Linked DNA regions of Homo sapiens. The protein of the gene in region 1 interacts with the protein of each later gene in a biochemical or structural test. Each region holds a gene or a part of one and is shown in the gene's direction. Other genes may lie near its edges.

Evidence for each region.
Region 2: the proteins of GTF2I (region 1) and POU2AF1 form a complex in vitro, tested with the Homo sapiens proteins (one study listed by BioGRID).
Region 3: the proteins of GTF2I (region 1) and USF1 form a complex in vitro, tested with the Homo sapiens proteins (2 studies listed by BioGRID).
Region 4: the proteins of GTF2I (region 1) and STAT1 form a complex in vitro, tested with the Homo sapiens proteins (one study listed by BioGRID).

The regions. Positions count from the first base shown.
Region 1 is NC_000007.14:74,653,027-74,661,165, forward strand, and holds the start of GTF2I (general transcription factor II-I), read left to right. Parts: upstream 1-4,691; 5' UTR 4,692-5,042; intron 5,043-8,139. UniProt on the Homo sapiens protein: Interacts with the basal transcription machinery by coordinating the formation of a multiprotein complex at the C-FOS promoter, and linking specific signal responsive activator complexes.
Region 2 is NC_000011.10:111,351,124-111,355,862, reverse strand, and holds the end of POU2AF1 (POU domain class 2-associating factor 1), read left to right. Parts: exon of another isoform or gene 1-1,287; coding exon 1,288-1,602; 3' UTR 1,603-3,608; downstream 3,609-4,739. UniProt on the Homo sapiens protein: Transcriptional coactivator that specifically associates with either POU2F1/OCT1 or POU2F2/OCT2. It boosts the POU2F1/OCT1 mediated promoter activity and to a lesser extent, that of POU2F2/OCT2. It recognizes the POU domains of POU2F1/OCT1 and POU2F2/OCT2.
Region 3 is NC_000001.11:161,042,316-161,050,810, reverse strand, and holds the start of USF1 (upstream stimulatory factor 1), read left to right. Parts: upstream 1-4,833; 5' UTR 4,834-4,953; intron 4,954-5,826; exon of another isoform or gene 5,827-5,899; intron 5,900-7,450; 5' UTR 7,451-7,535; coding exon 7,536-7,543; intron 7,544-7,928; coding exon 7,929-7,978; intron 7,979-8,138; exon of another isoform or gene 8,139-8,140; coding exon 8,141-8,256; intron 8,257-8,495. Other genes in the region: ARHGAP30 (rho GTPase-activating protein 30), read left to right, coding at 1,122-1,387, 1,477-3,096.
Region 4 is NC_000002.12:190,968,727-190,976,944, reverse strand, and holds the end of STAT1 (signal transducer and activator of transcription 1-alpha/beta), read left to right. Parts: coding exon 1-105; intron 106-1,033; coding exon of another isoform or gene 1,034-1,057; coding exon 1,058-1,133; coding exon of another isoform or gene 1,134-1,137; exon of another isoform or gene 1,138-1,407; intron 1,408-2,012; coding exon 2,013-2,115; intron 2,116-6,227; coding exon 6,228-6,242; 3' UTR 6,243-7,796; downstream 7,797-8,218. UniProt on the Homo sapiens protein: Signal transducer and transcription activator that mediates cellular responses to interferons (IFNs), cytokine KITLG/SCF and other cytokines and other growth factors.

The DNA.
Region 1 (8,139 bases):
AGACGGTGGGTGCAGGTGCTCTCGCCTGTAATCATAGCACTTTGGAAGGCTGAGGCAGGAGGATTGCTTGAAGCCAGGAGTTTGGAACCAGCCCGGTCAACATAGCAAGACTCCATCTCTACCAAAAAAAAAATGATATAACAGAGTCACCAAAAGAGTATTCAGTTTGGATTCAAAAAAACATCTTTAAAAAGAGCATATGATCCCAACAACAGAGATCTCAACAAAGTGGCATAACCACCGTTCTGTCACCGTGGGCTTTCAGGGGTTCCTATGCAGGGTCCCATGATCACGTGCTATTTCTTTTTTCTTTTCTTTTCTTTTTTGTTTTGAGATGGAGTCTCGCTCTGTCTCCCAGGTTGGAGTGCAGTGGCGCGATATCGGCTCACTACAACCTCCGCCTCCCGGGTTCAAGCAGTTCTCTGCCTCAGCCTCCCGAGTAGCTGGCATTACAGGCGCCTGCCACCACGCCCGGCTAATTTTTTGTATTTTTAGTAGAGACAGGTTTCACCATCTTGAGACGGAGTCTCGCTCTTTTGCCCAGACTGGAGTGCAATGGCGCGATCTCAGCTCACTGCAACCTCTGCCTCCCCGGTTCAAGCGATTCTACTGCCTCAGCCTCCCGAGTAGCTGGGATTACAGGCACATGCCACCATGCTCGGCTAATTTTTTTTGTATTTTTAGTATCGATGGGGTTTCACCATGTTGGCCAGGCTGGTCTCAAACTCCTGACCTCGTGATCCTCCCACTTCGGCCTCCCAAACTGCTGGGATTACAGGCATGAGCCACCGCGCCAATCACATGCTATTTCAAAGCAGTCAACGAAGCTCTAAGCCCAGAGTCTAAGCGAAGATGCATCTGAGTTGGTGGAAGTGCTCACGTGGGGTCCAGATCCATCTCTAGCTTGGCCAAGGCCCATTTGACCTGGCTTTGTTTCCCACCAAACAGAAGAATGGAAAAGTCACATCATATGGACGCTTATCTGAAGACTAAGCTAAACATTAACAAAAAGAGAGGGGGAAATAATTGAAATAACATGGATGGTTCTGCCAGCTGTTGGACTCTGTACTTATGTCCTGACTGACCATGAGCTGAGAGCCGCAAATCTGCTCTTGCTGAAGCCCCAATCCAGTCTGCATCTCTTGGTATATGCATCCTGTGATTCTAGTATTTTTTTTTTTTTTTTTGAGACGGAGTTTCGCTCTTGTTGTCCATGCTGGAGTGCAATGGCATGATCTCGGCTCACAACAACCTTTCCCTCCCAGGTTCAAGCGATTCTCCTGCCTCAGCCTCCTGAGTAGCTGGGATTACAGGCATGCGCCACCACGCCCGGCTAATTTTATATTTTTAGAAGAGATGTGGTTTCTCCATGTTGCTGAGGCTGGTCTCGAACTCCTAACCTCAGGTGATCTGCCTGCCTCGGCCTTCTAAAGTGCTGGGATTACAGGCATGAGCCACTGTGCCCAGCCCGATTCTAGTCTTTAAAGGAGGATTTCCTGGCTGGGTGCAGTGGTTTACGCCTGTAATCTCAGCACCTTGGGGGGCTGAGGCAGGCAGATCACTTGAGGTCAGGAATTTGAGACCAGACAGACCAACATGGTGAAACCCTGTCTCTACTAAAAATCCAAAAATTAGCCGGGCATGGTGGTGCATACCTGTAATCCCAGCTACTCGGGAGGCTGAGGCAGCAGAATCGCTTGAGCCCAGGAGTTGGAGGTTGCAGTGAGCCAAGATCGCACCATGCACTCCAGCCTGGGCACCGGAGTAAGACCCCGTCCCCTCCCAAAAAAATCAATAAATAAAATAAAGGAGGACTTCCTACTACATCATTTTTAGACACAAATCAACTATTATTTTTCTTCTGTTGCCCAATCCCCAAAACAGTAATCTGATCCTACATTTGAAAAAAAACCTGGGCCCAGTGCAGTGCCTCATGCCTGTAATCGCAGCACTTTGGAGGCCACGGCAGGAGGCTTATTTGAGCCCAAGAAGTCAAGACCAGCCTGGGCAACATAGTGAGACCCGTCTCTACAAAAAACGAAATTAGCTGGGTGTGGTGGCACATACATGTTGTCCCAGGCATTTGGGAGGCTAAGGTGGGAGGATGGCTTGAATCTGGAGTTGGAGGCTGCAGTGAGCTGTGATCGAACCACTGCAGTGCAGCCTGGGTGATACAGTAAGACCCTGTCTCAAAAACAGGAAAAAAAAAAAGTAAAACAAAACCCCAGCTTTGCAGAGAGATAGTATCCAAAGTGATTTATAACAATGGCCACAATTAATGTAGTATCTATGCCACTAAGATGAAGGAGAAATTGGTTGACAAGTGTTCCAACAAGCCGCAGTGAGCCAGACCTTAATGAAGACAGAACACGCAAGATCTTTATGACTGTAACACATGAATTTGAGGGTTACAAACCTTAATGGCAAAATGCTCAGAAAAACGCTTTGTCTGCATACACATTGCCTCAACAGAGACAGCTTTCTGACTAGAGGTAATTCAAAACCAGCTCATGTTGACCTAACCGTTTTAGGAATTGCTTCAGTCTCAAAGAAGTTGGAGTTGTTTATGAAGAGGCAGCAAAATTCCACTGTGGGCCCGGTGCGGTGCTCACGCCTGTAATCTCAGCACTTTGGGAGGCTGAGGAAGGCAGATCACTTGAGGTCAGGAGTTCGAGAACAGTCTGGGCAACATGTTTAGTAGAAACCCGTCTCTACTAAAAATACAAAAATTAGCTGGGCGTGGTAGTGCACGCCTATAATCCTAGCTACTCAGGAAGCTGAGGCAGGAGAATCACTTGAACCCGGGAGGTAGACGTTGCCGTGAGCCGAGATCGCGCCACTGCACTCCAGCGTGGGTGACGGAGCGAGGCTCGGTCTCAAAAAAAAAATTCCACTGTGAACCACTAAACAAATTCATAGAAGAAAGGAACTACCTTCCAAACGTTTTCACGATGATAAGAGTCATCTTGGCTAAATAAACTTCTGCCTTGCTAACTCACTTTGTAACATCCCCCCAAATTCTACTCCACGACTCCACTATACCCAGGAAATCCTTTCCCTGACCCCTCCAGGTGGAGAAACCACTCTCTCAACAAAAGATACTCACTGAAGTCCACAGCAGCTGAAATCTGCATCTCGTAGGCTGGCTGCTCTTACTAGAGTGAGTTATAGGCTTCTCAAGAGTTAAATTTGTTCCTAAATATATGCCAGTGGCACGTGGTATTGGGAATAGAGAATTTAATTAAATATTACTAAATGTCAATGAAATACAAGTGCAAAAAGAAAGTTGCTCTTGTGCAAACTTAATGAATGACTTTCGAGACAATCGACAAAGGAGAGTCACAATCTTATTAGGCAAGGACCGAAGGGATCCTAGACATTGTCCGGGAAATCGCAAAAATTCAGGCTTCTGTAATCAGATTGCTTCTCCGGTGAGCTTTACGCTCTCCATGTATTTTTCAAAAAAAATCCAACATGAAAATTCTAGAGGAGGCTTTATTGGGTGCGGTCTGTGCAAGAGAGACGATGGGGAATGCCAATCGGAGAACCCAGATTGAAAGGAAAGGTTTTTGGAACCCACATCAAAAGACTGGCTGCTCGGAAAGTTTTCTCGCTAGCGACAAAGGCTTGGAGGCTGGAAAAAGCGTCGTGGTCGCCACCTACCGAGAAGCGGCGGGTGGGGGGAGGATGGCCGTCGTGGCCCGAATCCCCAGTGGGTGGTACTGGGTGGGGGGGCGGGCGGGAATCAAAAAACCACTCAATCTCGTGCTTTACATAAACATCTAAAAATCGTCGGCCTCGGGGTTGTAAAGTTTTGGAGTTTAACTTAGGTGAACAGTAATGTCTCTCCATTTTCAAAACCCACCGGCTAATTCAAGTTGAGAAGCAAAAAATAGTGGTAGGGGGAGGAGTTTGAGTTAAATCGCATCGCGGTTGACAGAACAAAACAGGAGCTACGAGTCAGGATTTCTGCTCCCACTCCCTTGCAAGTTTCCTTCCAAATCCTGAGGGAGAGATAGAGGCGGAGGGTCTGGGGGAGGAATTAAAACACAAGGTCTCCTCCCCTCTCGCCTGTCCGAACTTGGGGGCAACGGTCTCTTTGGAGGCCAGCTTGGAAAACACTAGAGAGGAGTTCTTTGTGTCCTGGAGGGTGGTGCAAGGCGGAAGGACTCCCCTTTTGCAGAGCAAGGAGGGCGACGGCCCAGCCCGGGGCTCCCCGGCTTTTGCAGCTTCCCTGCCTCGCAATTTGCAAGGAATGTGGGGTGCAAGAGCAAGTGGCGGACTTGGACGGCGGCTGGCGCTCGGTGGGGACGACGCCGGAGCCACCACCCGTCCAGATTTCCGTTTCTGCACCCCGGCTCCCCTCCCCCACCCGGGCGGCCGCGCAGGCCCCAGGTGCAGCCATGTTCTCGCTCCCACCACCCTCGCCTCCATTGACAGCCCTTGCTGGAGAGGGCCGGGCGCCGCGCTTGCCTCGTCCTCGGGTTCGGGGCTAGCCGGCGCGGTGCTTCCTGGGAGTTGTAGTCCACGACCGCCGCCGCCGCGTTGACGGGGAACGCATCCGAAACTACAACTCCCGCTGGGCGGCGCTGCGGATGCGCAGGCGCAACGCGCCTTCGAGGAACAAAAAAAAAAAAAAAAAAAAAAAAAAAGAAAAAAAAGAAAAAAAAAAGGAGGAGGAGGAGGAGGGTGAGAGAGAAGCTGGGAGAGCAGAGAAAAGGGGCCACCGGTCGCCCCCCCGCTTCCCCGCACGCGCTCTCCAGCCGCGGCCGCCCGCCTGCCGCGGTCACCCCGGCCTCTGCCTCTGTCCCCCAGTGATCGGATCAAGGCGCTGAGCGAGGCCCTGCCTGCGGGGCGGCCATGCGGCGGTGACAGGAGCGCGACCGACACGCACGGGCCCCTCGCCCCCTCTCGCCTCCCGTCCGCTCGCCAGCTCCCCTCAGCCGAGGCTGCTCCGCGGCGGCCGCAGCCCGCGCGCGGCCCACACTCGCCTCCCCTCGGCACCCCCGGCCCCGGAGCTGCCTGGAGGCGGCCGCACTCGGGTGAGTCCCTCTCGCCTCATCCCCGCGCCCCCCGCCCCCGCCTCGGGGGCCATTGCGAGCGGGGGCCTTTATTAGAGACTTTGCCCCGCCGGGGCCTGCAGGGACAGGGGCCTGGGAGCCGCGGCCCGCCGCGCGCGGTGTGGGGCCTTGGGGGGCGCCCGTGCCGCCTCCCCCTACCCCCACCCCCACCGCCTCGCCGGGTCTCGAGCCCCGCCGGCCTTGGCAGTGGCCGAAACGAGGCGATGGGGGTGGGGCGGCACGGACGCGGTCGCGGGGGACGACAGTGGCACGCGCGCGCCTCAGTGCGCGTGGGGGAGGGGCGCGCGCGCCGACCGGCGTGCGGTGGGGGGGCGCCTCGCGCGTGCGATCCCGCGCGCGAGCGAGCGAGCGGCCCTGCGGGCTGCGCATGCCCCGCCGCGCTGATTGGCCGGCTAGGCGGTGCGGGGGCGCGCGCGGTGCCAGGCCCGAGCCGTCGTGGGGTCGCGCTCGCCTGGTGTATCTGGGGCTCCTGCGCCGGGGCAGCAGACGCGCGGGATTGGCCAACCGGCGCGGGGGCGGGGCCGCGCGTTGCCTGGTAACTGCGGCGGGCGGGGGAGCGGGAGCGCTGTCCCCCGCCCCGCCCCGCTCCCAGGTGGAGTCCGCAGTGGGCTTTGTCCCGGGCCGGCCCGGCGCGCCTGCCCCGCGGGGCCTGTTCTTTGGGGGAAATAAACACAATGACCGGAAGGAAAACTTCAGCTTTAGGCCATGAAAATTAAGCCGTCTGGGTTCAGCCAGCACCCAGACGACGGGAGTGCAGAGGAAGAAGGAAAATGAAATGGAAAAAGCTGTCTCCTTCCCGCTCCCCGACTTCTCCACTTTTTCTTAATCCAGCTTTTGCTTTTTCGTGTAGCGAATTTTGTCCTCCCTAGGTTATGGATTTGCGCTGATTTGCGGCTGGGGATGTTCACAGGTGGGGTGCTGTTGGAGTAGTGTCCACTCTTGGCGATGCGCAGCTCTTGCTGACTACTGACCTCCTTTTTTTAAAAAAAATTATTTGTGGAGATGCGTTCTCACTTTGTTGCCCAGGCTGGTCTTGAACTCCTAGGCTCAAGCGATCCTCCCACCTTGGCCCCCCATAGTGCTGGGATTACAGGTGTGAGCCATCGCTTTCGGCTTAATTTTCTTTTTTTTTTTTAGAAACAGGGTCTCTCTGTGTTGCCCTGGCTGAAGCGCAGAGTGGCACAATCATAGCACATTGCAGCCTCCAACACCTGGGCTCCAGCGATCCTCCTGCCTCAGCCTCCTCAGTGGCTGGGACTACAGGCGCATGCCATCATGCCCTGCTAATTTTTTTTTTTTTGAGATGGAGTCTCACTCTGTGGCCCAGGCTGAAGTGCACTGGTGTGATCTCGGCTCACTGCAACCTCTGCCTCCCGGGTTCAAGCCGTTCTCCTGCCTCAGCCTCCTGAGTAGCTGGGATTACAGGCGTGCCCACCACGCCCGGCTAATTTTTGTATTTTTAGTAGAGATGGCGTTTCACCATGTTGGCCAGGCTGGTCTCCAACTCTTGAATCAAGCTGAAAGCAATCGGCCCGCCTCGGCCTGCCACCAAAGTGCTGGGATTACAGGCGTGAGCCACCGCCCTGGGTCACGCCTGGCTAATTTAAAATTTTTTTTTAGAGATGGGGTCTTCTTGTGTTGCCTAGGCTGGTCGGGAACTCCTGGACTCTGGTGATCCTCCCGTTTAGGCCTCCCAAAGTGGTGGGAGTACAGGCTTGAGCCACCACGCTGGGCCTCATCTCTTTTAAATTCAACTTTGCCGCAGACAATGGCTTGATCAGCCAACAGTGCAGAGGAGAAGTCTCCAGTCCTTCAGGGAACAAAAGGGGAAGTTAGTTTGCAAATGAGAACGTGCAGGTAGAGTGCCCTGCGGAGGCGGGGTCTTCTCCCCAGGCTGAGGCCTGTGGTGTGGGATGACCGATTTTATTTCCTGCTACAGGATTTTTCTGTGGCTGCTACCTTGGCTTTCGTTTCTCCTCCTCCTTGAGATCTTGGTCTTTTGGCTGGAATGACATTTTTCAGCCTATGGAAATCTTTCTTGCTCATATGCAGCCACTTCCTTAAGGTCTTCTCTTTTTTTTTTTTTTTTGCTGCTGTTGTTGAGAGGGTTTCGTTCTATCCCCCCAGGCTGGAGTGCAGTGGCGCGATCTTCGCTCACTGCAACCTCCACCTCCCGGGTTCAAGCGATTTTCCTGCCTCAGTCTCCCCCGAGTAGCTGGGATTACAGGCGCCTGCCCCCAAGCCCCGCTAATATTTGTATTTTTAATAGAGACGGTGTTTCGCCATGTTTGTCAGGCTGGTCTTGAACTCCTGACTTCAGGTGATCCGCCTGCCTCGGTCTCCGAAAGTGCTGGGATTACAGGCGTGAGCCACCGCTCCCGGCCTGTGGTCTTCTCTTATATTGCATAGTCAGAGTTTGTTCCTTCTTAGTCTCCCAATCAACTTGTGTGCCCTTCCTCGCAGGGCACCTTTATTTTCTCTCTTTTTTTTCCTTTTCCTTTTTCTTTTCTTTTCTTTTTTTTTTTTTTTCGGAAGCGGAGTTTCGCTCTCGTTGCCCAGGCTGGAGTGCAGTGGCGCGATCTCGGCTCACTGCAACCTCCGCCTCCCGGGTTCAAGCGATTCTCCTGCTTCAGACTCCTGAGTAGCTGGGATTACAGGAGCGCTCCACCACGCCCGGCTAAGGGCACTTTTACTTTCCTCTGCATCTGGCCTAGTCACTGGGTGTTGAGCTCGTAGGGGCAGGGACAAGAAGCCTTTTCCTCCTATGTCTTTCTCCCTCCACTTCCCCCTCCAGTTTGGCATCGTCCTCGTGCCTTGCCGGTGGTAGCAATGCTGCTTACATTTGAGTGTCTTCCGTGCCCCCTCCATGGCTCTTGAGCGCTTTGGATGTACAGTATTTTTCTTATTTAATCTTTGTGACAAGTCTGTAATTCTATTCTATAGAGCGGAACAAGTCTAGAGAAGTTGGAGAGTTCTGTACTCTTGCTTGCCTAGCACATGAACCTGGCCAGTGTGACTCAACCCCTAAGCCGAGGTTGTGAAACCACCGCGCCTGGGC
Region 2 (4,739 bases), on another chromosome or scaffold:
GATGGGGACCACTGGCTTAAGTCAAAGGAGAGGAAGTGATTATGCTGTGGTGGGGTGTACACCTCAGCCCGGATTTCAGGAGGCTGGAAGGCCTCTGAGACCATTTCCAGCTCTATCATTCTGTGCAAAAACACCCTAAAGCCTTGCTACTCAAACTCTTGTCCCTGGACTGGCCACATTGGAGTCCCCCTGAGATCTGATTAGACATGCAAAATCCCAGGCCCCACTCTAGACTTCCTGTGCCAGAAGCTGCGTTCTAACAAGATCCCCAGGAGGTTGAGAAAAGCCCTGCCCTAAATGATTCTAACAGTTTGCTGTCAAGACACAGTGACAGTAGGAGGGATATATGACAGGGGAGACAGGGATGGTAGGGGGAGATTTTGGCCTCCCTCTCATGAATCCATGCAGAGAGCATCCTCTTCTATCTGCTTTCCTCAAGTGTGAAAGAAAAGTAAGAATCCAGGTCCCGCCCCTGTTGCAGGCCTGATCTGAGGTTTGTGAGGGCAGTCGCCGTGCAGGTGAGAGGTATGACTCGCAGAGCATTCAGGAGAAGGACTCTAACACTTGGAGGGTCATGGGGGGTGCCCATAAGTGGGATGGCCATGGAGATCAGCTCAGAGACAGAGGACGATGAGGATGTGGAAGGCACCAGGCAGCAGCAGGAAGGAAGGCCAAGTTTGCTGACAAAGCAGTGCTTCCCCCATCTGGGGATGGCCAGGCCTCCCCATGCTGGCCACCACTAGAGGGGTGGGAGGTGATGGAGCTGTGTTGGCCCAAGGGGACCTCCAAAGCTGTTGTGTGGAGCCCGGACTGTCTTTGTGTCTGGGCAGGACAGTGGCCACCTTCCAGATACAGCTTCCAGGCTGTGGTTTAACATATATTTTCACAGATTTTAAGATGCATATATTTTTAATGTTTTAAGATCTCTGAAATAGAAATGAATTTTGTATTCAACGAAACCTGGAAAATCCTCTCTAATTGGCCTAACCCAATGAGTTCATTACTGTTTGTATTCTATTTCGTAGATGAGAAAAATGAGCCTTCTGAGCAGGAAGTGGCCTGAGCAAAGACATATAGCTAGGAAGGGTCAGGATTGGGGCTGCGGTTGAAGTCAGCCTGGCTCCTCCCTTGGGGAAGACTTTGAGCAGGAGGAGGTGGAGCCCCATGAAGTGAGAAACCAGGAAAGGGCAGAATTGAAGGGGGAGATGGAGACCCCTCTAAGGGCAAGGATGGGTGGATGGGTCTCCTGGGGCTGCTAACCCTCTGTCACGTGTTTTCCTGTCACAGACAAGAAGCTCCGCCACGCCCGCAGTGGGGCCCCCGCTGGAGGGCCCAGAGCACCAGGCACCCCTCACCTATTTCCCGTGGCCTCAGCCCCTTTCCACACTACCCACCTCCACCCTGCAGTACCAGCCTCCGGCCCCAGCCCTACCTGGGCCCCAGTTTGTCCAGCTCCCCATCTCTATCCCAGAGCCAGTCCTTCAGGACATGGAAGACCCCAGAAGAGCCGCCAGCTCGTTGACCATCGACAAGCTGCTTTTGGAGGAAGAGGATAGCGACGCCTATGCGCTTAACCACACTCTCTCTGTGGAAGGCTTTTAGGCGTGGCTCCCACCTGAGTCCTGTTCCCTGAAACTGGGATTTTAAAATGAGCCTGGAATTGAGCCCCAGGTTCATGCTTGTTTGGAGTAGTCATTTCATGACTACACTTTCTACGCACAGCTAGAATTGTAGACCTGTAAACCTTCCTTCCCTTCTTCCTTCCCCTCCCTCCCTCACTTCCTCCCTCTCCCCCATCCTTCCATTCTTCCCCTCCCTCCCTTCTTCCTTTCCAACCCCTTCCTTCCTTTTCCTCCCTCCCTTCCTTCCCTCCTTCCCTTCTCCCTTTCCAACCCCTTCCTTCCTTTTCCTCCCTCCCTTCCTTCCCTCCTTCCCTTCTCCCTTTCCTTCTTTACCTCCCTCCCTCCCTCGCTTCTTCTCTCTTTCTTACTTCTTTTTTCAATTCTGTTCCATTTTGGGAGGTAATTATAGGGATTTTAGCAATAACATTTTATGTCAAATGTTGCCAAGTCTGTGGTCCATGGGCTTTCATTTCTGTCACATTTCATTTCTTGGAAAAGGCCTCCTTCCTCCAGTGCCTGCTGAACCATCTTAGGGTCACTCACACCCTCTGTAATTTTAAGATGTATGTGGTGGCCGGCGGGAAGACCAGCCCCGACAGCACCTCCTGAGAAAGTCAGCCAAGGGCCTACCCTGATGCCAGAGTCCTTGAGCTGTCAGTTCCCACAGTTGCTCCTTTGTTTGCTCTTCTCAGCCTCGGCCAGATTTACAGTCCAGGCAGCAAAATCTCAAGGCCTGGGGCTCAGAGTAGTAAGGGGTGGGAAGTGGGTGGCAGGGAGAAAAGAACATCAGGGTGGGTGGGGACAGGCCAGTGACGAAGAGAGGGACAGAGGAGGGATGGGAACAGGCTGTGCATCTTAGTTGGAGAGAGGGGTGTGGGAGGAAGCTTGAGTTTGATGCAGGGAGGAGGAAGGCTGAGGAATGACTTGGCTCCAGATTACTTGGTTATTAAGAAGAACAATAAACTAAAGGAAAGCATTGCTTGAAGAGATGGTTTTGCTGCTCTCCTTGAGGATACGTGCAAGGGAAGTTGGGCTGTTGTAAACAGGGTGAAGGGTGTGTTTGGTCGGCCATTTCTGTCTCACCTCTAGGCCCTCTGCTGGTGCTGTGGAGGCCAAGACCCCATTAAGCCTAAAGGTGATGGGTCCTCGCCTAGGCTTAGTGCTACCATGTGGGTTTTGTTTCTTTCCTTCCTTCCTTCCTTCCTTCCTTCCTTCCTTCCTTCCTTCCTTCCTTCCTTCCTTCCTTCTTTCCTTCCTTCCTTCCTTCCTTCCTTCCTCTCTCTTTCTTTCTTTTTTTTGGTTTTTTTTGGGACGGAGTCTCACTCCATTGCCCAGGCTGGAGTACAATGGTGCGATCTTGGCTCACTGCACCTCTGTCTCCCAAGTTCAAGTGATTCTCCTGCCTGAGCCTCCCGAGTAGCTGGGATTACAGGTGCATGCCACCATGCCTGGCTAATTTTTGTATTTTTAGTAGAGACGGGGTTTCACCATGTTGGCCAGGCTGGTCTCGAACTCCTGACCTTGTGATCCGCCCGCCTCAGCCTCTCAGAGTGCTGGGATCACAGGCGTGAGCCACCGCACCCAGCCTTTTACCATGTGGGTTTCTTTAGTGTCTTAAAAGCGTCCATAAGCCACCATTCTGTGGAACCAAGGCCCCCTCCACGCAAACACCCTCCCTCCTGGGGACCTCTGGAGCCTCAGCCAGAAGTACCATTAGGTTTAATTTTAATTTGTTTTGCTGGAGAAACATCAGGTTTGTAGGAGACTGAGTTGTTAGCAGGTGTGCTTAGCTCTTGATAGTGAACGTGTACCTTGGGAACTGGCTCACCCACCTGCTAATAGCACCATCGTCACTATTAAGCAGACATTTCAGTTGGTAGAATCCATGTAGAAGTCATGGACTTTTCTGGGAAATGACTTTTCTGGGAAATGACAGTTTCTTTGACATATTTTCTTTGCCCACTTTAAATAAAAACTCTGGAGAAAGTTGTCTGTTTTGGATTTTCTTTTTCTGCTTAAGATTAATTTTGACCCAGATTTCTCTGTGCCTGCCTTAAATCCCAGTACACAAATCTTGAATTGTTTTTATTCAGATATTTTTTAGATTTAAAAGTTCAAGACAGCATTTGAGAAGATGCATTTACATCTTTGTCGGTACTGATGGTAAGTAGGTGGGCAGGGCTCTCAGTCCTATTTGATTAAAAGCCCTGGTTTTCCATAAAAAAAGACACTATGCAAGATTTTTCAGCGTACCATTTGAGAGGGTGCAGAAGCAACCTCCGTAAAGGAGTTAAAGTTGGCAAAAACTAGCAAAGAAATATAGTACTTTACGTGTTTGCTAAGATAAATGGTCTATTTTTTCTCTTATCTTGAGGTCAAATGTCTTGGTAGTAGTCCATCTGGGTTTCTTCCCGAGTTACTCTGCTAAGATGGAAACATTTTCATAAAGATTTGTAGAGACTTTTCTGTGCCAAAGTGTTTCATTTCTTATCAAGTTGATCCCCCTAAGCTTTCAGTCCCATGTTAGACAGTGTGATTAGAGGAAGGAACTTAACACTAGTCTTGTTGACTTTGCAAATTGATCTGTTGCAGAAGAAGATAAAACCAGTCCCCACCGTGCCTGCAGTCCAGTTCTCCCAAGCAGGACATGCGCGTGGCTAGGGGGCTTGTTGTCCAGGAGAGTGGGGAGCTGAGGAGAGAGGGAAATCTTTTAACTTGATTGCTCTTCCTGTTATTCACGCCATCATGAGTAACTTCTCATGACGCTGAGTGTTCAGGGATAAGTTCTACCACGGGCATTTCCATAGCAGGCTCTGAAAATCCATCAATCAGGATCCAGGAGCATGTGACATCAGGCAGGAACCATGACCTAAGGAAGCCATCTCATAGGGCCAGACATCACCACGGAATGGAAATTCCAGAAGCCAATTAGTCCCCTCCAAGATCAGTCAATGGAGTGAGTTACAGTTTGGAAGGGGTCTCCCTTTCCTGGTGATTTTCTGAGTTTCTAAAGGCCTCTGAGCTCACTGCCTACATTGTTAATCTTCGTTGGAGTAATTGTTTTAAAATTATCTACACTATTCTGCTATGAGCCTTATTTCCAGATTTTGGAGGAGA
Region 3 (8,495 bases), on another chromosome or scaffold:
AAACTGGCCAGGTGTGGTGGCAGATGCCTGCGGTCCCAGCTCCTTGGGAGGCTGAGGCAGGAGAATCGCTTGAACCCAGGAGGCAGAGGCTGCAGCGAGCCGAGATCACGCCACTGCACTCTAGCCTGGGCGACAAGAGCAAAACTCTGTCTCAAATTAAAAAAAAAAAAACAAAAAACAGTTTATTAAGTACCAAGTGCTAGGCCAGGCACGGTGGCTCACACCTGTAATCCCAACACTTTGGGAAGCTGAGGAGGGTGGATCACTGGAGGTCAGGAGTTCGAGACCAGCCTGGTCAACATGGTGAAACCCCGTCTCTACTAAAAAAAATTAAAAAAAAATTAGCCAGGCGTGCGTGGTGAGGCATGCCTGTAATCCCAGAGACTCAGAAGGCTGAGGCAGGAGAATTGGTTCAACCCAGGAGGTGGAGGTTGCAGTGAGCTGAGATTGCGCCACTGCACTCCAGCCTGGGAGACATAGCAAGACTCCGTCTCAAAAAAAAAAAAAAAAAAAAAGGTCCAAGTGCTGTGATTGCAGGATTGGTTTGTTTCATTTTCTCATAATCTTATGACATAGGTATTGTTAGCCTTATGTTACAGCAGTGGAAACTGAGACTTAGGTTAATCAATTTGCAATTGATTTAGGTAGAAGTAGCAGAGCTAGGATCTGATCCTTGCTCTGACTCCAGTTCCTGAAGTGTCACTCATGAGAAGTCCTGAGGCAGGATAGGATAGTGGGTAAGAACATGGGCTATAGAGTTAAGTAGACTTGGGTTCAAATTTTGGCTGTACTGCTTATTCATTACATGACCTTAGACAAATTGCTTAATCTCTCTGAGCCTCAGTTTCCTCATATGTAAAATGAGGACAATACCCCACATAATAGTTTGGAGGAAAAAATGCCAATGCATTGTAAAATACATAGCACAGTGCTTGGCACCTGGTAGGGTCTCAATTAAGGTAGCAAGCCAATAACTAGGGACATTGGTCTGAAAGGATCAGTCATGCAGAGTAGCAATGCTGGGAGTGCTGGGCCCCTGCTATATCAATGCTAGGAGGACTCACACTGAAAAGGGTCAGGGCTTGACCTTTGTATTCCTGGGACTACTTCTCCCCCAACAGATGAAAAGTTGGAAGCAAGTCCAGCCTCAAGTCCCCTGGCAGACTCAGGCCCAGACGACTTGGCTCCTGCCCTGGAGGACTCGCTGTCCCAGGAGGTGCAGGACTCCTTCTCCTTCCTAGAGGACTCAAGCAGCTCAGAACCTGAGTGGGTGGGGGCAGAGGATGGGGAGGTGGCCCAGGCAGAAGCAGCAGGAGCAGCCTTCTCCCCTGGGGAGGACGACCCTGGGATGGGCTACCTGGAGGAGCTCCTGGGAGTTGGGCCTCAGGTAAGGAGAGCCGTGCTGGGTTTGGGGGTGGCATGGAGTCAAGGGTGGACAGGGCCTCCTGGTCCTGAGTCACAATGCTGTGCCTACAGGTGGAGGAGTTCTCTGTGGAGCCACCCCTGGATGACCTGTCTCTGGATGAGGCACAGTTTGTCTTGGCCCCCAGCTGCTGTTCCCTGGACTCCGCTGGCCCCAGGCCTGAAGTTGAGGAGGAAAATGGGGAGGAAGTTTTCCTGAGTGCCTATGATGACCTAAGTCCCCTTCTGGGACCTAAACCCCCAATCTGGAAGGGTTCAGGGAGTCTGGAGGGAGAGGCAGCAGGATGTGGAAGGCAGGCTCTGGGACAGGGTGGGGAAGAGCAGGCATGCTGGGAAGTTGGGGAGGACAAGCAGGCTGAGCCTGGAGGCAGGCTAGACATCAGGGAAGAGGCAGAGGGAAGTCCAGAGACCAAGGTGGAGGCTGGAAAGGCCAGTGAGGATAGAGGGGAGGCTGGGGGAAGCCAAGAGACAAAAGTCAGATTGAGAGAAGGGAGTAGGGAAGAGACAGAGGCCAAGGAAGAGAAGTCCAAAGGTCAGAAGAAGGCTGACAGTATGGAGGCTAAAGGTGTGGAGGAACCAGGAGGAGATGAGTATACAGATGAGAAGGAAAAAGAAATTGAGAGAGAAGAGGATGAACAAAGAGAGGAAGCCCAGGTAGAAGCTGGAAGGGACCTAGAGCAAGGGGCCCAGGAAGATCAAGTTGCTGAGGAGAAATGGGAAGTTGTACAGAAACAAGAGGCTGAGGGAGTCAGAGAGGATGAGGACAAAGGACAGAGGGAGAAGGGGTACCATGAAGCAAGAAAAGACCAAGGAGATGGTGAAGACAGCAGAAGCCCAGAAGCAGCAACTGAAGGAGGAGCAGGGGAGGTCAGCAAGGAACGGGAGAGTGGGGATGGAGAGGCTGAGGGAGACCAGAGGGCTGGAGGGTACTATTTAGAAGAGGACACCCTCTCTGAAGGTTCAGGTGTAGCGTCCCTGGAGGTTGACTGTGCCAAAGAGGGCAATCCTCACTCTTCTGAGATGGAAGAGGTAGCCCCACAGCCACCTCAGCCAGAGGAGATGGAGCCTGAGGGGCAGCCCAGTCCAGACGGCTGTCTATGCCCCTGTTCTCTTGGCCTGGGTGGCGTGGGCATGCGTCTAGCTTCCACTCTGGTTCAGGTCCAACAGGTCCGCTCTGTGCCTGTGGTGCCCCCCAAGCCACAGTTTGCCAAGATGCCCAGTGCAATGTGTAGCAAGATTCATGTGGCACCTGCAAATCCATGCCCGAGGCCTGGCCGGCTTGATGGGACTCCTGGAGAAAGGGCTTGGGGGTCCCGAGCTTCTCGATCCTCTTGGAGGAATGGGGGTAGTCTTTCCTTTGATGCTGCTGTGGCCCTAGCCCGGGACCGCCAAAGGACTGAGGCTCAAGGAGTTCGGCGAACCCAGACCTGTACTGAGGGTGGGGATTACTGCCTCATCCCCAGAACCTCCCCTTGTAGCATGATCTCTGCCCATTCTCCTCGGCCCCTTAGCTGCCTGGAGCTCCCATCTGAAGGTGCAGAAGGGTCTGGATCCCGGAGTCGTCTTAGTCTGCCCCCCAGAGAACCCCAGGTTCCTGACCCCCTGTTGTCCTCTCAGCGCAGGTCATATGCATTTGAAACACAGGCTAACCCTGGGAAAGGTGAAGGACTGTGATTAGGACCACAGCCCTGGGCAAAGGGGACCAGCAAGTTGTCTTGAATCTCCAGGGTTCCTGACTAGCTGTCTCCTCTGCAGCATGAGCAGCTGTAGTGCCCAACTCTATAGGCTTTGGCCCTCCAGCTTCTCTCTTTGACTGTGGGAGGCACTGCCTTGGTTGGTTTACCTGAACTTGTCTCCGACACAAAGCACTTATCTCTTAGGAGATTCCCAAGAAAGTCAACAAGATCTTGTTCCCAGGGAGTGGGTCATTGGCCAAAGGGAACATAAGGTAGGCAGAAAACTTAAAAGAGTTTGTTAAAGTGAAGACTGGAGAAATTCCTCCCTTCCTCTGAGCTGTGAATCTCTCTTCATGAAAGCCAAAGGTAGAGACAGGGAGGACAGGGCCAGGTTAGGGCCTTCCACACACAAACACTTCTAGAGTTGCCCATTCCTGTTATGTTCTTGGACCCTAAGATACCTCCTGTCCCTTTTAAATCCAGATTAAGAGAAACGTCCAGGAAGAGCTCTTTGAAGCCCTCAATATTTGTTGGAGGGACTGGACTCCTCTCCAGCTCCCCACCCTCTGCCTCCAGTCACCATGTGCAAGAGAGGTCCTGTACAGATCTCTCTGGGCTCTCCTTTCTCCTTTGGAATAACTTGTTCCTATTTCAGGAAAGGGAAATGGTGTCACTCAGGCCCTGGGACTGCTTCTCCAGCCAGGCTGGGGCCACAGGTCCCACTCTAGTGAAGGTCAATGTCTCAGAATAAAAGCTGTATTTTTACACATAGTGTGGAGTCTCATTATTCTTATTAAAGTCTTTGGTGATAGGTATTATATCTTCACATATTTGGCAAAACATTCTTTTTCTTCTTCTTGTTTGGGTGCTCTTCCTCAGTTGTTGTCATGGAGACTAGTGGCCAGAAACTAGAGCTAGGTTCATGGTGGTCAGGAAATAAGGAAGAGAAACTTATATTTACATAATGCGTTCATTATGTGCCAGGAACTGGACTAAGTATCCTGTGCTCACAAAATCTATGTCCTTGATTTTATTTAATCCACACAATTCTGGAAGGTTGGTGCTAGTATCTCCAGTTTATAGATGAGGAAACTAAGGCTCAATTAAGTCAAAATGTTTGCCAAAGGTCTCAGAGGTAAGAAGTGGCAGAGATGGGTTTGAAACCTGGATCTGCCTGGCCCCCAAGCTTGAATTTTTCCCATTATACCACACTACTCCAAATCCATTCAGGGTAGGTCTTGATTGAGAAGAATGGGAATCAAGATTCCTGTCACAGAAGGTGTGAGCCTTTAGAACACTAGAAGCTTTGGGGTCTTTGGATGAGTGACTGCTGACGCGAATAACAAGGAACATATCCAATTCTATGCATGCCCCGATAGGTCGTAATCTCTAGCAGGTAACCTTTCAAAAAGACGCCCTGCGCCAAGATGGCCTCCCAAATAGCCCTTGTTAAAGATGGCGCCTCCGTCGGACGTCCCTCCCTTGATCTCAGCTGGATTCTCTTCTTTCCTGGAATGAAAAAATGCCCTGCCAAGCACTAAGATATTAGTACAAGTTAGTCGTCTCTTTCCCGTTCTTGTCGAAAGTGGCCAGGCCTTCAGCTACATTCTCCAGGACACGGCTTCTTTCCGGCTTCACAAATAACCCACAAACACCAACTCTCATCAAGATGGAGTGAGCGGAAGTGGGGCAGTTCTGAGTTTGAGTTTATGGGCGGGGCGAGAGCGACACTTCCGCCCCTCACCAACATGGCCGCGGGCTGGAAGTGCGCATGAGCAGCTGTCTATGGAGATACCTAGGCCGGGAGAGGGAGAACACAGTTGGAGAAAATCGGCAGCTGAGACGGCCTTGGCCGGTGAGTGTAGGACCGGGCAGAAGTCTGGAAACTGGGTGGACTGGCAAGGCAGGGCAGCTTTGATTTTGTTTCCGTTTTTCAAGTTAGAGAACACTGCTGGGGAGGAAGCCTTTGTTTTGGGGGAGGGGGCTGTGCTGGTTCTTTATCTCATACCCTGCTTTGTGGGCCAAACTCTCTCCCTTCCCCAGAGCGCGAGCGTCCCAGCCCTCCTGCGCTGTCCAGCTGCGCGCCGCAGCCGCCGGCACCGGGCGCTTGAGCTCCCTAGTCCCCGAGGCCCTTTCCTGCCTCCTCCGCGGAGCAGCTGGGGCGCGGGGCTAAGACTGCGGGGCTGCGGGGTCACGGCGCAGGCTCCCGGGCTCGCGCCTGGCGGGCGCTCAGCTCCGTAAGCGCCTTCTGGTTGGTGAGCCTGCAGGGAGACGCCTCATTCTAAGGCAAGGTCTAGGTGCCTGACTTCTTTCGGGAGTTGATTTTTTTTCCCTTTGTGTCCAGACTTAGCAAGGGCTCTTACTGGGCCCTTCTGGCCTGAGCGTGCACACCACAACGTCCCATCCCTGTTTCCGTGTCACCGATCCCTAATGCCTAGGAAATGCTTCCGGATGTCCAACTAAGATTTGAATAAGTACCCTGACCCCGTTGCTGGGTGTCCTCAGAGACTGCCCCGGCTGACAGCTGTGGCCAATAGAGATGCCTCCTGTGCCGGGCCCTCTATTTCATTGCCTTCCCCTGCAGTCAGCGCGGCAAGCTTCGCAGGGCATTTCCTCTTCAGGTTTGAAGATGGAAATGTAGGTGGTCCCAAAACACTAGTGCTACTTCCCCTTATCGACTGGGATCTCCTTGCAGCGTTACTTCGTCTGTACGGTTTCACTTTCAGTTCCTTTTTCAACATTTTCCTCGGACGCGGTCTTTCCGAGGCTTATCCATTGAAAATTTTCCTTGGATAGGAAAGGTTTGGAGGACCTTATGGGTAGAGAATTTCCAAAAATCTTGCCCCTTTTGTGTTGGGATTATCTTATTGCTTTGTACTGTGTAGCTGTTTCTTTCTGGAGGCATGTCTGCCCAGCTCTTTGTTTTTCCTGCCCTCTGGCTGGGTGTCAGGGTCCTAAGGCAGAGCTTGTAGGTGGATTCTTCCCCCTTTGTCTCTTCTTCAGAACCCTGTTTTTTTTTTTTTTACCCCTTCTTGCTCAGGCTTAGTTGATTTGGAGTTGTCATAGCAACATTTTAGCAACAGTGTTGTTCTGCAGGAAGGCTTGATGAATAAAATAGAGAATGCTTGAAGAGGATCCACTTGGGCTTTAGGGTTTCTAACAGATTATATAAATCTGGATACCCCAAAACAAGAGTCCTGTCAGTAGAATGGGGCCCAAATGCCAAGTCTAGTCTTTGTGGTCAGGGATATTCTTCCAGTGGTAGTGGGCTTCAGATTTCCTCTTCCTAGGTTTGAAAACAGAAATGTCTTGATGGACAACATGTGGCTGAGAAACTGGAAGAAGCATCAGTGTCCATGACACTGTATTTTTTGATGGTGGGGCCAATACATGGCCCTTCCTGATTCCCATGAAGCTGCCATCATGGCAGGTCATAATAGCTTTAATGATCCATTTAGAGATGTGTTGTTGGCTGGGTGCGGTGGCTCATGCCTGTAATCCAAGCACTTTGGGAGGCCGAGGCAGGCGGATCACCTGAGGTCAGGAGTTCCAGACCAGCCTGGCCAATATGGTAAAACCCCATCTCTACTGAAAATACAAAAATTAGCTGGGCGTGGTGGTGGGCACCTATAATCCCAGCTATTCAGGAGGCTGAGGCAGGAGAATCACTTGAACCCAGGAGATGGAGGTTGTAAGCCGAGATTGTGCCACTGCACTCCAGCCTGGGTGACAGAGCAAGATTCTGTCTCAGAAAAAAAAAAAAAAAAAAGAAAGAAATGTGTTGTTTCGGCCAGGTGCAGTGGCTCACACCTGTAATCCCAGCACTTTGGGAGGCTGCCGAGGTGGACAGATCATGCTCTCAGGAGTTCGAGACCAGCCGGGCCAACATGGTGAAACCCCGTCTCTACTAAAAATACAAAAATTAGCCAGGCGTGGTGGTGTGCACCTGTAATCCCAGCTACTCCGGAGGCTGAGGCAGGAGAATCACTTGAACCTGGGAGGCAGAGGTTGCAGTGAGCTGAGATCGCGCCACTGCACTCCAGCCTGGGTGACAGAGAGAGACTCTGTCTCAAAAAAAAAAAAAAAAAAAAAGTGTTGTTTCTGTCTTCCAGTATAATTATCCACTCTCCACCAGGAGTTGGAGTGATAATGGAGGGATGGGGAACACTATTTGTAGCCTTGCTTTTTCAATCACTGTAGGCCAGTCCTCAACATCAGTATGGTGGAGGCTGATTGTCCCCTGCAGATGACTGGGTTATTTTCCTGGCTATGTGTTCATGGAACCTAAGTTCTAGAACCAGAGATACTGTTCTGTTTCCTAAACTCATTGCAAACTTCATGATTTCTACCAGGACTTAGCACTCAGGCCTGTGAATCAGGAGATACAAAGACCTCCAAAAAAGGACCAGTTCCTCGGATGTGCCCCCTCACAGAGAGATGAAGGGGTGAGTGAAGAAGAGGTAGGGTCTGGGATGAAAGATGGGTGGCCTGGAAGAATGCAAAATGACCAAGAGCACTGCCTCTGGAGTCAGGCAGACCTGGATTCAGGTTCTACTCTATCACTTACTGTGTGATTTGGTTTCTCTATCTATAAAATGGAAGTAGTGCTATCTATCTCGTGGTGCTGTTTTTAGTACTAAATAAGATTACATGTAATGTACTTAGCTTAGTGCTTATGTACATAGTAAACAGTAAACACTAGTTGTTATTCTAACCTAACCCAGCTTCTGTTGGGAATGCCAATGAGTTTGCAGCCATATGTTACTGGGCCAGTGAGCTTCTCATTGACTTCTTCTCATACTCTTCCTTTTGTCCTTTCACCACAAACAGGCAGCAGAAAACAGCTGAAACGGAAGAGGGGACAGTGCAGATTCAGGAAGGTGAGTGCTAGAAACAGAACCAAGACTAAGAACCCATCATGGCCTCCCTTCCTTCCCCACCAGACCATCTCCTGTGCATCCTCCTCCTTCCGTGACATGCAAATGGAACGGGGGTAGAAAGGCAGTTAACTCACAGACTTTTCCTTTGTTCTTTTAATTCAGGTGCAGTGGCTACTGGGGAAGACCCAACCAGTGTGGCTATTGCCAGCATCCAGTCAGCTGCCACCTTCCCTGACCCCAACGTCAAGTACGTCTTCCGAACTGAGAATGGGGGCCAGGTAAGGGAGGGGGCCAGGTGGCTGCAGGTGTTATCTGGGGTTGGGATTGAGGGAGGTAATTGAACATGTCTTGGGGAGACCTGGCTTGGAGGATGAGTTGAAAGAGTGGACTGTTGCAGGGGAGGGAGGTGCTAATACTGGAGTAGAGACTGGTGTGAGGTTAGATGTATGCTGAAACCTCTGTGTGGGGAAAGAAGGGAGAATGGCTGAATCCATGTCTCTGAAGGACTTTGTTTTGG
Region 4 (8,218 bases), on another chromosome or scaffold:
AAGTCATGGCTGCTGAGAATATTCCTGAGAATCCCCTGAAGTATCTGTATCCAAATATTGACAAAGACCATGCCTTTGGAAAGTATTACTCCAGGCCAAAGGAAGGTAAGTGGGGCAAGCAGGTGGTAACAGCGTGGCACAGTCTTTCCTGATGAGGGGGTGATTATTCTGAAACTCCACCCATGCAGTGTTTTGCTTTCGAATTGGTAAGAGTAGGCTTTCAAAAGATGGCATAAACTCAGTGCAGGTGAAACATAATGCATTATTTGGCCTGATACAGCTAGTAAGAAATGAATGGACAATTTCCTATTTTAGGAATGTTGGAAAAGTCCATTGCTGGTCTTGTGTATTTGTTACTATCACTGTTTCCACATGAAAAGGGTTTAAATAAGGAACTGTGGTAAACCAACAGAAGGCATCTTGCTCACGTTAAAGTTGAGGAAACTGAGGCCTGGGAGAAGTGAAGTGGTTCATTTAGGGTGGCCCAATTACTTACTAGATCCTATTTTTATTAGATAATTATTAAGAGGAGGCCTCATCTGAGAACACAGGTCTCTTGCTTCTCAGTTGTCAATGAATTGCATTTGAGAAGGTTCGAATTAGACCTGTTTTGTTTGGAACACACCAACAAAGCTGTTTTTCAGAATCAGAAATCTCAATATTAGGACAATTACTTTGGAATGAAGATGTCCCCAGCTTACCTTGACAGCTGTGAATATTCATTAGCCAGGCTAATGCCAATAAACTGGATAGAACTTTGCATATTTTGGGCTCAGACTTCTTGTAAGATTTCAAGTTGTGTAAAGAGAAAGCTCCTAGCTAGTGTCCTGCTGAACACTAGCTTATTTCCAGACTGAATTCAGATCCTTCTTCTCGTTGTTTCTGCATTCCCACTAGAATTTTAGGTGACTCAGGCAGGGAGGTTATAGCTCCTTAAAGTTTTAGGAGGCTAAGCTGTCTAGAAACACAGTAGAACTTTAATCCCCCCGAAAAGTTGATGTTGTATTCTGATGGAATTTCGGTTGATGGAAAGCGTACACAATGTGTTTATTTCTAGCACCAGAGCCAATGGAACTTGATGGCCCTAAAGGAACTGGATATATCAAGACTGAGTTGATTTCTGTGTCTGAAGTGTAAGTGAACACAGAAGAGTGACATGTTTACAAACCTCAAGCCAGCCTTGCTCCTGGCTGGGGCCTGTTGAAGATGCTTGTATTTTACTTTTCCATTGTAATTGCTATCGCCATCACAGCTGAACTTGTTGAGATCCCCGTGTTACTGCCTATCAGCATTTTACTACTTTAAAAAAAAAAAAAAAGCCAAAAACCAAATTTGTATTTAAGGTATATAAATTTTCCCAAAACTGATACCCTTTGAAAAAGTATAAATAAAATGAGCAAAAGTTGATCAGAGTGGGAAAGTAGTTCTTTTCAATCTAGAAAAGGCCAAAGTAATGATTGAGATACACTGTCTCCACTTGCTTTGATTTTGTTGTTTCATTTTATAAAAGGTAGAAAAAATTTTGGAAATGTCATTGTCAGTTATTTGGCCTGCAGCACTGTCTTGGGGTGAATGGATGTAGCCTTCATGTAAAAACACTGTGTGGAGCAGCTTTATCTGCATTCAAACCTCAAGGTAGGGATGAGGGACTCCCCAGACATTTCTCTGGTGCTTTTCTGTCCAGGGTAAGCCACGAGGCATTGTCATCTCAGGGTAGTGCACCGCACATGCTCACACCTAGGCTTACCCAGGCAGAAGCGGCACAGATTCCAGTCTGGCTATTGCTTATCACATCCCTGGAGTGTGAAACATTTCCCAAGGGGCTGGGCTGGGGACATGAGCCTCCCATGAGCTGTACTTTTGCAAATGTATTTTACAAGTGTATGCACTTACCCAAAATAAAAATATAACGTGATAATTCAATTACAGACAAAAGATAAAGTGTGTAAGTATGCACTAGTGCTTTCATCACTCAGATGTTGACATTGCTCTTTTCTTTTTCCCCATTTTAGTCACCCTTCTAGACTTCAGACCACAGACAACCTGCTCCCCATGTCTCCTGAGGAGTTTGACGAGGTGTCTCGGATAGTGGGCTCTGTAGAATTCGACAGTATGGTGAGTACCACGGCTGGCCTGTGTGTAGCTCTCAATAAGTGTGTGTGCTCAGAGGCAGGGAGCGCACCATGGCAGATCCCGGGCCTGTCTGCGGGAGGGAGCCCTGGCGGAGCCAAGGAGAGTGCAGTGCTCAGATGAGCCATGACAAGTTGGAGCTGCTGGATTTAAACCACCTACATCATCAGTGGGATTTTTATTCCTCGCATTCAGCACCTTCCAAAAAACAAGTGACATTTCTAATATTCAGGTTTCCTCCTCTCCCCTTTAAAGTTGTCCATGTAGAAATTTCATATATTAAGGAACTAAGATTTCTTTGATAAGCAAATGTTTTTCTTCGGAATGCGATTTCATCACTGTGTCTAGGGGAGGGAGTGTTATTTTTAGAAAGGGAGGGACTAACGCTTGGTAGTTACAGTAATTAGAGAGAATTATACTTTAGCAGCAATGAGATTACTTCATCTGCCTTATATTTGAGAGCTAATTTGTACAAGTAGCTCCTGGGGCTGTGAAGGGCTTGCCAAGAGTAAAAGGTTCAAGGAGTGAAATAGTTAATGAGATTCGTGATAGAAATGGGAATATGATTGTCCACAAAAGGGAACATCTTCCTTTTGGAGGGTGCTTTTTTAGTATATCAACTAGTATTGTTTGCCTTTCAGCCTAAAATCCTTCCTCTTAAAGATTGTGCTTGCTTGGCTGGATTTTTGCTGATGCTGTTTAATTTTAAGCTCTTTTCCACATGGAGCTATTCCAGCTCATTTTTAAAAATTTATTTAATGCTTCCAAAAAATATCCTGAGTTATTACTGGCCTTTCTTCCTTACTGTATACCCGGTGCCTGGCAAAAAGTAGGTGCTCAACAAAGAGAGGAAGGCAGGGAGGGGAAAGGTGAGCGAGAATGAGAGGGCGTCACTCTTCAGACATTTGGGGAATGCGATGATAAGGCCTCAGTAAGATCTGCCTGGATTCAGGTTTCTCATGTGTAATTTTTTGACTTTTTTCCTCACCTTAAGCACGGGCTACAATCATTAGAGATTGTACCTTCCTACACTTTCCTGATTGTTGTTGACGAAATAGGCCATTTAGAAAAACAGTTAGCTATTGTGGCAGCGAAATAGTTTCATTCCTATTGGCAAGTGTAAAATGAACCTTTTCTGCATGTAAGAAGGATCCTGCTAGAGTTTCGCTCCCAACACTGCTATAGGCCTGGCACAAAAATGGAATAAATATAAAGCCCTATTCAGAAAATATGTTACATCACAGGAACTGTAAAATGGGGGGATTTTTTATACCTCCTTTGTTGTTCCTGAGCAAATTACATCATCATCACCACCACCATTAATAGGTGACATTAAGCACCTACAGTATACCATGTACTTCACAGGTAGTAACTCATTCAGTCCTCACAGCCACCTTCTGAGTTAGGTGTTATTGTTATTCCTACTTTGACAGATGTGGGAACAGAGCCCCTCCTCCCCACACAGCCCCTTTTATGTAACTTGACTAAGATCAAGCAGTTAGTAAATGGTAGAAAGAATATTTGAATCTACCTAGTGAGTCTCTAGTGCATGCTTTTGTCCGGTATCCTGGAAAGCCTCCCACAAAAAGCTAATCTTTGCCCCATTCAAAACATGCACCCTGAAGAAGCTGTTTGTACAGGATTGGGTTTATTCTGTTATTAAGACAAAGGCATCATGGCCTTTGGGTGAGAGGCCCGTATGTGTTTGGGATTTGGCAATCAGCATTCCATCTCTGTCATCACCATTATTGAGAAAATAGATGGATTGGTTCCCTCTCTGCAGTCCTGTGGAGCAGTTGGACTGCTCTCTCTGCTCTCAGGATGATACTGTGAGAACAATTTAAATATGCTAAGCACATGTCAGGAAACAGTTTTGTGGTCTTTGGACACTCGCTGTAGCCATTCCGTTCCATTTCAGGTGATTTTATTCATTTCATTTGTAGAATAAAATAAATCCATTTCACACACACACACACACACACACACACACACACACACCCTCTATACACCACTAAAGCCTCCCATTAAACCCATAGAAGACTTAAAGAGCTAAAAGAGGCTATAATATAAAAAAAAAAAAAGAAAAGAAAAGAAAAAGAGTTCATAATATAGGCACGGCACTGGTTAGACAACGGTTGAATCAGTCTCTAAATTGGGTTGACTTCACAATGGTTTGCTGTCCTGCCCCTTGGCCATGACTTCCATCCAGCATCTACTCTTAGAATCAGAGTGTATACTCTGAAACAGAAGCAGCTCTCCCCAAGCTGGCTGTCTTCTGCCAAGTCTGGAGGTTGCAGCTCTGAAAGAGGGTGGTACCAGGGGCCAACGCCTGGTGCAGCCTCAGGAGCAACAGGACCATAGGCTCCTGAGGAAATTGTCCAAGAGAGCCAGAGCACCAGTGTTCTCTGCAGTATGACTTGGGCATTTGTTTAGTCTGGATTTCCTGTGTAATCAGTGTTTTCCTCTGGGACTGTAATAGAACCAGTCTACTCTCCAAGAGGCCTTTAGCCAAAGCTCATAATGATAGGACTAGCTATTAATTGTCTACTACTTTCTGTCTACTATACTAAACATTTTACGTATGCCATCTAATTTAACAAGCCTATCTGCTAGGTACTATTAATCCCCTTTTGATAGATGAAGACTTTGAGATTTAGAGAGGTTAAGCCACTTGCCCTGGTCACGCAGTGACAGGATCTGAATCTGGGCTTCCTCTCTTCCTCTATCTATCTATCTCCCCCTCCCTCCCTCTCTTTACCCCCACGGTCCACCCTATTAAGCACACATTTGAAACATCAGCCAGGCCGGGCGCGGTGGCTCACGCCTGTAATCTCAACATTTTGGGAGGCCGGGGCAGGTGGATCACCTGCGATCAGGAGTTTGAGACCAGCCTGGCCAACACGGTGAAACCCCATCTCTACTAAAAATACAAAAATTAGCCAGCCATGGTGGTGTGTGCCTGTAATCCCAGCTACTAGGGGGGCTGAGGCAGGAGGATCGCTTGAACCTGGAAGGTGGAGGTTGCAGTGAGCCAAGATGGTGCCACTGCACTCCAGTCTGGGCAACAGAGGAAGACTCCGTCTCCAATTTGAAAAAAAAAAAGAAAGAAAAAGAAAAGAGAAACATAAGCTAGACTGAAACATAGGGGCAACACTTTCACTGTGCTTTTCAATCCAAAATAATTTTCCTAAGAGCCCACTATGTACCACACACTATTGAGCACTTGGGATTAAAAAAAAGTTCTCCAGAGGCTTTCCAGTCTAGTGCCATGTGTCTCAGTCTTGGTGCTACTGGTATTCGGGGCTTCAGAATTATTTGTTGGGGATTGGTGGGGTGGGGAGCTTTCCTGTGCTTCGTAGGAGGTTCAGCAACACCTCTGGCTTCTACCAAATAGATACCAGTAAGCACATGCACCCTCACAGCCAGATGGGACAATCAGCAATGTCTTCAGCCATTGCCAGGGGACAGAATCATCCTCGATTGAAAGCATCTGGTCTAAGGGGAAAGACCAGTGTGGAAGTCAGACAGGAAGTCACTGGCAGGCTAGTATCCTTTGGATGAACAGTTTACTTACTATAAGTTGTCCTGGTCAAGGCAGCTGGGCAGAAGGCACTGGTGGGGAAGGTGAAGGGGTTCTTAGTAATTCTGCTTCTTTAGTCTGTACCTGAAACACAGTCATTGATTTTACCCACTGAGTGGCCTTTAGGGGAAGTGTATCATTTCCCTCTCCTTCCTCTCTCCCTCTGGCATATGGCTCAGCATTTCCTCACCCGTTTCACATGAGCAGATTTGACACGTTGCTCTGTCCCCAGACTTGCATAACAGCAAAAAGCTTTATGCAGTCTGGATGGATTCACAAAATTAAGCCAGTGGGCAGCAGAGTAATAATCCGTCAGCTTAGGTGATATAAAAGGTCTTGATTAGCCCAGGATAATACATAGTACATGCTGAAGGCCCTCTTATTCCACGGTATTTATTTGCCATTGCAAGTATCTTCCTACTACTTCATTCTAGAATAGACAAGCAATGTTTAATGTATGAGTCTGCATTTCACAAGATCAGTGTAATAAACTTAACCACATTTTGTCTTTTTACAGATGAACACAGTATAGAGCATGAATTTTTTTCATCTTCTCTGGCGACAGTTTTCCTTCTCATCTGTGATTCCCTCCTGCTACTCTGTTCCTTCACATCCTGTGTTTCTAGGGAAATGAAAGAAAGGCCAGCAAATTCGCTGCAACCTGTTGATAGCAAGTGAATTTTTCTCTAACTCAGAAACATCAGTTACTCTGAAGGGCATCATGCATCTTACTGAAGGTAAAATTGAAAGGCATTCTCTGAAGAGTGGGTTTCACAAGTGAAAAACATCCAGATACACCCAAAGTATCAGGACGAGAATGAGGGTCCTTTGGGAAAGGAGAAGTTAAGCAACATCTAGCAAATGTTATGCATAAAGTCAGTGCCCAACTGTTATAGGTTGTTGGATAAATCAGTGGTTATTTAGGGAACTGCTTGACGTAGGAACGGTAAATTTCTGTGGGAGAATTCTTACATGTTTTCTTTGCTTTAAGTGTAACTGGCAGTTTTCCATTGGTTTACCTGTGAAATAGTTCAAAGCCAAGTTTATATACAATTATATCAGTCCTCTTTCAAAGGTAGCCATCATGGATCTGGTAGGGGGAAAATGTGTATTTTATTACATCTTTCACATTGGCTATTTAAAGACAAAGACAAATTCTGTTTCTTGAGAAGAGAATATTAGCTTTACTGTTTGTTATGGCTTAATGACACTAGCTAATATCAATAGAAGGATGTACATTTCCAAATTCACAAGTTGTGTTTGATATCCAAAGCTGAATACATTCTGCTTTCATCTTGGTCACATACAATTATTTTTACAGTTCTCCCAAGGGAGTTAGGCTATTCACAACCACTCATTCAAAAGTTGAAATTAACCATAGATGTAGATAAACTCAGAAATTTAATTCATGTTTCTTAAATGGGCTACTTTGTCCTTTTTGTTATTAGGGTGGTATTTAGTCTATTAGCCACAAAATTGGGAAAGGAGTAGAAAAAGCAGTAACTGACAACTTGAATAATACACCAGAGATAATATGAGAATCAGATCATTTCAAAACTCATTTCCTATGTAACTGCATTGAGAACTGCATATGTTTCGCTGATATATGTGTTTTTCACATTTGCGAATGGTTCCATTCTCTCTCCTGTACTTTTTCCAGACACTTTTTTGAGTGGATGATGTTTCGTGAAGTATACTGTATTTTTACCTTTTTCCTTCCTTATCACTGACACAAAAAGTAGATTAAGAGATGGGTTTGACAAGGTTCTTCCCTTTTACATACTGCTGTCTATGTGGCTGTATCTTGTTTTTCCACTACTGCTACCACAACTATATTATCATGCAAATGCTGTATTCTTCTTTGGTGGAGATAAAGATTTCTTGAGTTTTGTTTTAAAATTAAAGCTAAAGTATCTGTATTGCATTAAATATAATATGCACACAGTGCTTTCCGTGGCACTGCATACAATCTGAGGCCTCCTCTCTCAGTTTTTATATAGATGGCGAGAACCTAAGTTTCAGTTGATTTTACAATTGAAATGACTAAAAAACAAAGAAGACAACATTAAAACAATATTGTTTCTAATTGCTGAGGTTTAGCTGTCAGTTCTTTTTGCCCTTTGGGAATTCGGCATGGTTTCATTTTACTGCACTAGCCAAGAGACTTTACTTTTAAGAAGTATTAAAATTCTAAAATTCTATTAATCTCTCATTAATAGTATTTAATATAAAGATTCTTAAAATTACTGACGTTATGAATTGGTTTGATGCTTTTCTCATGTACCTCAATCCTTATTTTAAAATAAGATCAATAACACTATTTTCCTAAATGTTGTCCTTACCTGCCCTACACATATTCAGAATTGCTATGGCAGATTAAGACATGTCAATGGAAGAGGTCAGAGGAGTAATATTATTGGCAACAGCTGTAATAGGTGCCATAAAAAGCAAACAAACAAAAGTATTTTGGTTCTTTGCGACCACAGCTGTCCCCAAATATACAGATGA